Linked DNA regions of Homo sapiens. The protein of the gene in region 1 interacts with the protein of each later gene in a biochemical or structural test. Each region holds a gene or a part of one and is shown in the gene's direction. Other genes may lie near its edges.

The links. The genes of interacting proteins can lie anywhere in the genome.
Region 2: the proteins of IKBKG (region 1) and FRMD8 form a complex in vitro, tested with the Homo sapiens proteins (one study listed by BioGRID and IntAct).

The regions. Positions count from the first base shown.
Region 1 is NC_000023.11:154,550,494-154,554,143, forward strand, and holds part of IKBKG (NF-kappa-B essential modulator), read left to right. Parts: intron 1-1,494; coding exon of another isoform or gene 1,495-1,509; coding exon 1,510-1,696; intron 1,697-3,650. UniProt on the Homo sapiens protein: Regulatory subunit of the IKK core complex which phosphorylates inhibitors of NF-kappa-B thus leading to the dissociation of the inhibitor/NF-kappa-B complex and ultimately the degradation of the inhibitor.
Region 2 is NC_000011.10:65,403,616-65,407,265, forward strand, and holds part of FRMD8 (FERM domain-containing protein 8), read left to right. Parts: intron 1-1,248; coding exon 1,249-1,453; intron 1,454-3,650. UniProt on the Homo sapiens protein: Promotes the cell surface stability of iRhom1/RHBDF1 and iRhom2/RHBDF2 and prevents their degradation via the endolysosomal pathway. By acting on iRhoms, involved in ADAM17-mediated shedding of TNF, amphiregulin/AREG, HBEGF and TGFA from the cell surface.

The DNA.
Region 1 (3,650 bases):
GATTGGAGTTCAAGGCATGAGACTGGACAGAATTCCTGTGGGAGTGAATGAAGTTACAGAGAAGAAGATGTCCTAGGACAGAGCCCTGGGGCAGCCCAACATGAAGGATGGGAACCCAGTGAGAGTGCCTGGGCAGGAGTAGCCAGCAAGATAGGGAGGAAACCAGGAGAAGGGGCTGTTCTGAAAGCCAAGGGTGGAGTGCAGTGGCACAATCTCAGCTCACTGCAACGTCCGCCTCCTGGGTTCAAGCGATTCTCTTGCTTCGGCCTCCCGAGTAGCTGGGACTACAGGCGCGTGTCACCACACTCTGCTAATTTTTTGTATTTTTTTTTTTTGAGATGGAGTCTCGCTCTGTTGCCCAGGCTGGAGTGCAGTGGCGCGATCCCGGGTTCACGCCATTCTCCTGCCTCCCGGGTTCACGCCATTCTCCTGCCTCAGCCTCCTGGGTAGCTGGGGCTACAGGCGCCCGCTACCATGCCTGGCTAATTTTTTGTATTTTTAGTAGAGACAGGGTTTCACTGTGTTAGCCAGGATGGTCTCAATCTCCTGACCTCATGATCCACCCGTGTCGGCCTCCCAAAGTGCTGGGATTACAGGCGTGAGCCACCGTGACCGGCAATTTTTTTTTTTTTTTTTAGTAGAGGCAGGGTTTCACCGTGTTAGCCAGGCTGGTCTCGATCTCCTGACCTCATGATTGGCCCGCCTCGGCCTCCCAAAGTGCTGGGATTACAGGTGTGAGCCACTGCGCCCGGCCAGACATTTTAATCTCACAGTTCTGGAGACTAGAAGTCCAAAACCAAAGGGTTAGCAAGCACACACCCTCAAAGGCTCTAAGAGGGCAATCCTCCCTTGCCTCTCCCAAGCTTCTGCCCCATTTATTCCTGGGCTTGTGGCTGCCTCACTCCAGTCTCCGAGGCAGTCCCGACATGGCCTCCTCCCCTTGCGTCTCCCTCTGGCTTCTCTCTTCTGTCTCTCATAAAGACACGTTGTTGGATTTAGGGCCCACCCACGTCACCCAGAATGATCTCATCTTGAGATCCTACATCTGCAAAGACCCTTTTCCCGAATCACATATGTTTCAGGGGTTAGAACATGGGCATATCTTTTCGGGGGGCTACCATTCAGCCCACTACACTGGATGAGGGGCCGGTACCCTCCACTTCTCCTGCTTGGAGGTGTGTAGGGGATCAGGATTCCCAGCATACTGACATCTCCCTCCACAAACAGTCTTGTCCCGACTCTCCCATCTCTGGTGAAATTCTTCTATTTCCAGCCTGGAGCTAGGCCTTTTCAAGTCCCACATGGGTGGTCCAGCACCTCCCTTTGGAATGGGAGTATCTGCTACCCCTTAGACTGAAAACCCACTTTAGCATCCTGATACACTAGGTGAATTATCAGCATTCTGTTTAAAATGTAGCCCCAGAACTCATAGGCTTTTTCTGCTGGGTAAGGATGTGGGTCTCCTGTGACTCCCCTGCTGCCTTTCTCTTTCAGCCCTTGCCCTGTTGGATGAATAGGCACCTCTGGAAGAGCCAACTGTGTGAGATGGTGCAGCCCAGTGGTGGCCCGGCAGCAGATCAGGACGTACTGGGCGAAGAGTCTCCTCTGGGGAAGCCAGCCATGCTGCACCTGCCTTCAGAACAGGGCGCTCCTGAGACCCTCCAGCGCTGCCTGGAGGAGAATCAAGAGCTCCGAGGTGAGGAAAGAGTCAGGGGATCCAGCCCTGCTGAGGGGAAGGCGTCTTCTCCCCACCTGCACCTCTGCGTTTCCTGGGCCTGGGGTGGGGATGTGCTGCCCTCCCTCTTGGTTTCAGGAAGTAGACTCTGAGATGCAGATTAGCGGGGAGGAAGTTTAGCATGCTCTCAGGACCAGTACTGGGAAGGGAAAGGAGGGACAGGGGAAGAAGCCAGGGAGGGCAGAGGGAGAAGCACGCTGCCGGGTAGGCTCCAGGACAGCCTTGCTGGATCTTACAGGGAGCTCTGGAGCTGGAATGAACCTTCCAGGTTGGACCAACATGTCCAGGCCTCTGTGTCCCTGCACTGAGCACTCATGAAGTGCTGTCCATCCTGGGACAGGGCAGAGTCGGCGCTGGGAAGAGGCGTGGTCTGCCCAGAGAGGGGGTGGGGCCTGTCCTGGAAATGGGCGGGGCATGCCCTGGTAGAGGGGCGTGGTCTGTCTTGGGAAGGAAGGTGCGTGGCCCCCACAGGCAACATTCCTCTGGGGCAATCCCGGCGCACACCTCAGCGGAGGTGAAGGCTGACTTCCCACACCCAGTGGCTGGGACTGGGGAGTTCTTTCCTAGACTGCCATCCGGGCGCCCCTCACCCTCTTGCTGCTCAGCTCCAGGTCGTCATGGGTTCAGGGCTCAGCTGCACGCTCCTGCCCGCGCCCTGGGCGTGATGGCACCCCCAGCCCCTGCCATTCTTCCCCCTCACCCCCTCTCCCTGCCACTGCTCTGCATTGCCCTGGGTTAGCCTGGCGGGGCCAGGTGGCACCCGCCATATACTCTTGCCTTTCTGCTGCGGGGGCCTTCTAAGCCTCGGGTCCCAGAGCTGCAGGGAGGGGCGGCATAGACTCCCCACATGGCTCACTGGGTGTGGTGGGGCCTGTAGCCCTTTTTGTTTCATCCTTTGGTTCCTGCTGGGGACTCAGGCCTAAGTGTCCACCCCATCGTGGAGGACAACACCCCTTCCTTGCAGGAGTCATCCCTGAGCTGGCAGCTTCAATTGGCTCTCCGTGTCCTGGCTGGCTGGCAGCTCCTGGGCGAGGTGGCATGTGCCGTGACTACTAGAGATCGCTGTCATGGGCCCACTCCCCCGCCTTCTTTGCTGGACTGTGGTCCGAGATGTTATGTGGGGCTCTGTGCTGACAAGTCACATAGTCTGTAGGCTTCAGAGAGTGGCTCTGGCTGACACCCCGTGGGCAGAGACAAGACCCATGCCTGCGATGTGTCTCCTCTTACTGTCAAGGCAAATCACCTTTCCTTCCATGGAGGAAGGGGTCAGTGCAGTCAGCTTGCTGTCAGGGGGCTGCTTGGTCTCCTCGACGGTGAGGCTGAATTGGAGAGGCCCTGCTGGAGCATGGAGACCCAACATGACCTGCCTGTTCCAGGACAGGGTCCCCCACCTCAGTGCCATCGGCACCTGGGGCTGGAGAATTCTCTTGTACGTTGTAGGGTGTGGAGCAGAGTCCCTGGCCTGTACCTGCTAGATGCCAGTAGCACCTGTCCTGTTGTGACAACTAACAATATCCCCAGATATTTATTGCCAAATGACCCCTGGGGGATACAGTTGTCCCTGGTGAGACCCACTGTATTGGGATCTTCAAAGCACTGGTGCACAGAGAGGTGACAGTTAGACTGGGGGCTTCTGCTCATCCCCAGGAGAGTGCTCTATTGAGGGGGACTTGAGGGTGAGTGTTGCAGGCCAGCTGTGCAGGGACCCTGGCACAGCGTATGGCGCCCTTGCTTCCCTTCCAGGCTGTGTGTTCAGTGCAGCAGCTTCCCTCGGGCTCCAGGGACACAAGGAGGCCTCAAGGCTGTATTGACTCCCCCTGCTCCGCCTGACCTGAGCTTTGTGGGTGGCAGGTGAAACTTGGTAGCTCCATGTGTCAGGCCCTGGGCCAAGCCCCTAAGGGCCCAGAAGATGTCT
Region 2 (3,650 bases), on another chromosome or scaffold:
GTGCGCAGGCGTCCCTGACGCACCTGGCCTGAGAGAGAACATTGTCTTTCACTGAATAAGTGGGATTTTGCTGTGGGTTCTTCAGAGATGCGCTTCATCAGGTTGAGGAAGTTCCTTTCTGACGCTGGCTTGCTGAGTTTTATCTTGGACAGATGTTCAGCAGAGCTTCCTCTTTTGGCTGCATTTGAACGGCAGGCTTCCTGAGCCTCAGAGGCATGTTGCTGTGCAGGAGTTTTTGTTCTAGGAAACTTAGTAGGCTTCCCTGTTATGGTTGCACTCAGGACTCTGTCCCCACCGGCTGCCGTCCCCTCGCCAGCCCACTGCCCTTTGGCTGGTGGAGTCCACTTGGTGAGGAGAGGAGTGTGGGTGGACTGAGCTGAGGGCAGGGAGCGTGGAGAGCCCACCAGGCCTCTGCTCTTCCTTCTGGGCCGAGCAGCGGTGCCCACCTGCCCAGCCCAGAGGGATTGTAGCTGCCCTGTGGAGAGGCAGGAGCCAGGCCAGTCTCCGCAGGGCCACTCCAGCATCTGACCCAGCCCCACCAGTCAGGAGCACAGGTGGCCATTCCTGTCTACTTGGCCTCATCTTATCCCAGGCCTGCAGCAGTGCTTGGCACGTGGGAGGCACTCAGGAAATACCTGTGTCCTAAGGGGTGCCACCCTTTTAACACCCTCTGCGACTCCCTCAAACCCCTGAAGGCCCTGTCCTTGGTGCCCAGCTGTGCCCGCTGGCACCCGGCTGCTGCATCTTTTCTGTCAGTGTGCCTCATGCTTCACACCTGTTGAGTAGGAGTCACTTTTGAAGAACGTGCTGGCAGGGAGCCGCCCGCCCCTGCCCTGGTGACATCGCGCCCCTTCCTCCTGGCTGCAGGTTTTCCTCCCAGCCAGCACCACCCGCCTCCCCGCCCCGCTTCCCCACTCTTCGTCCTCTCTGCAGCAGCTGGCTCCCTACCCCCTCCCTCCCCACCTGCTTCTGCCCATGGAGTCAGCCTTCCTGGGCTGTGCCTTCTGACCAGAATGTTCTTTCTTTCCCACCTGAACTCCCAGATCTGGAGACCCCTCCTCATCCACCAGGACTCACCTTCACAGTCACCCAAGTGGGACACCTCCCCTGCCTCCCTGCTCCCTCCCTCCTGAGTGATGTGTGTCCCCTCCCCTGCTTCCCCAACCAGAGAGCAGAGCTCATTTCAGGCTCAGCAACAGGCATGGAAGGGGGCCCTGGCCAGGCCTCACACTGCCCCCTCCTCCCCAGGCCGAACTGATGAGCAGTCTCATTGAGTACTGCATCGAACTGAGCCAGGCGGCGGAGCCCGCAGGCCCCCAGGACAGTGCGACTGGCTCGCCCTCGGACCCCAGCTCCTCACTGGCTCCTGTTCAGCGCCCCAAGCTGCGGAGGCAGGGCAGTGTGGTGTCCAGCCGGATCCAGCATCTCTCCACCATCGACTACGTGGAGGACGGTGAGCAGCCCTTCTGTGCATGTGCACACACAAACACGCATGCGCGTGCACACACCGGGGGGAGTTCCTGAGGACAGGGCATTGCAGAGCAGCTCCAGACCCAGTGTGAGCTGGCCTCCATCTCAGGACACAGCTGTGAGCAGGCCGAGCCCGGGCCTTGGCCATAGTGCCTTTCCTGTCCCTTCTCACTGCTGCGTCACAGACGTTCTGCAGCATTGTCCAGGATGTGATCCGGGAAACGACTCAACATCTGTTACTGAAGTGTTGGGTAGGTGGGGCGCGGTGGCTCACGCCTGTAATCCCAGCACTTTGGGAGGCCAAGGCAGGAGGATCACCTGAGGTCAGGAGTTCAAGAACAGGCTGGCCAACATGGTGAAACCCTGTCTCTACTAAAAATACAAAAAAAGTAGCGAGGTGTATGGCAGGCGCCTGTAATCCCAGCTACTCGGGAGGCTGAGGCAGGAAAAACGCTTGAACCCAGCAGGCAGAGGTTGCAGTGAGCCGAGATTGCATCATTGCATTCCAGCCTGGGAGACAGAGCAAGACTCCGTCTCAAAAATAAATAAATAAATAAATAAAGCGTTGGGTAAATCACTGCTGTGACCACATCTTGGGGTGTTGAGTGCAGCTGGTAAAAATACAGTACCCAGGCCGGGTGCAGTGTCTCACACCTGTAATCCCAGTACTTTGGGAGACCAAGACAAAGAGGATCACTTGAGCCCAGGAGCTCAAGACCAGCCTGGACAACAGAGTGAGACCCTGTCTCTACAAAATATACTTAAACTTAGCTGAGCACGGTGGTATATGCCTGTAGTCTCACCTTCTTGGGAGGCTGATGAGGCAGGAGTATCTCTGAGCCCAGGAGTTGGAGGTTTGCAGTGAGCTACGATTGTACCACTGCACTCCAGCCTGGGTGACAACGATGAGACCCTATATATATATATTTTTTTTAATTAATTAATTAGTTAACTATTTTTGAGACGGAGTCTCACTCTGTCGCCCAGGCTGGAGTACAGTGGCATGATCTCGGCTCACTGCAACCTCCGCCTCCCCAGTTCTAGTGATTCTCCTGCCTCAACCTCCCGAGTAGCTGGGACTACAGGTGTGTGCCACCACACCCGGCTAATTTTTTTTTTTTTTTTTGAGACAGAGTCTCACTCTGTCGCCCAGGCTGGAGTGCAGTGGGCGCGATCTTGGCTCACTGCAAGCTCCACCTCCTGGGTTCACGCCATTCTCCTGCCTCAGCCTCCTAAGTAGCTGGAACTACAGGCGCCCACCACCACGCCCGGCTACTTTTTTGTATTTGTAGTAGAGACGGGGTTTCACCGTGTTAGCCAGGATGGTCTCGATCTCCTGACCTTGTGGTCCATCCGCCTTGGCCTCCCAAAGTGCTGGGATTACAGGTGTGAGCCACTGCACCCGGCCCTAATTTTTTGTTTTTAGTAGAGATGGGGTTTCACCGTGTTAGCCAGGATGGTCTCAATTTCCTGTCCTCGTGATCCACCTGCCTTGGCCTCCCAAAGTGCTGGGATTACAGGCGTGAAACATCACACCAAGCCCGAGACCCTGTTTTTAAAAAGGAATACCCTGGCCGGGCGCAGTGGCTCACGCCTGTAATCCTAGCACATTGGGAGACCAAGGCGGGTGGATCACCTGAGGTCGGGAGTTCGAGACCAGTCTGACCAACATGGAGAAAACTCTTCTCTACTAAAAATACAAAATTAGCTGGATGTGGTGGTGGTCGCCTGTAGTCCCAGCTACTTGGGAGGCTGAAAGCAGGAGAATCGCTTGTACCCAGGAGGTGGAGGTTGCAGTGAGCCAAAATCACGCCACTGCACTCCAGCCTGGGCAACAAGAACGAAACTCCGTCTCAAATAAATAAATAAATAAATAAATAATAAAAAGGAATACCCTAAATGCATCTTGTGTCAGATCCTGGAAGAGAGGACATTTGTGGAAAAACTATTGAAGTCCAAAAGAATTTTAGTTAACAGATACTGTGTCAGTGTTCATTCCTTAGCTCTGATGTGGTGACAGAACATGCTGTCATCGGGAGAAGTTGTGGCGGTATTCTGGAACTCTCTACACCTTTACAGCTTTCCTAGAAATCTAGAATTATTCCATGATAAAAAGTTTTTTAATGCAGTAACAAAGATCTACATTTATTTATTTATTTATTTATTTATTTATTTATTTA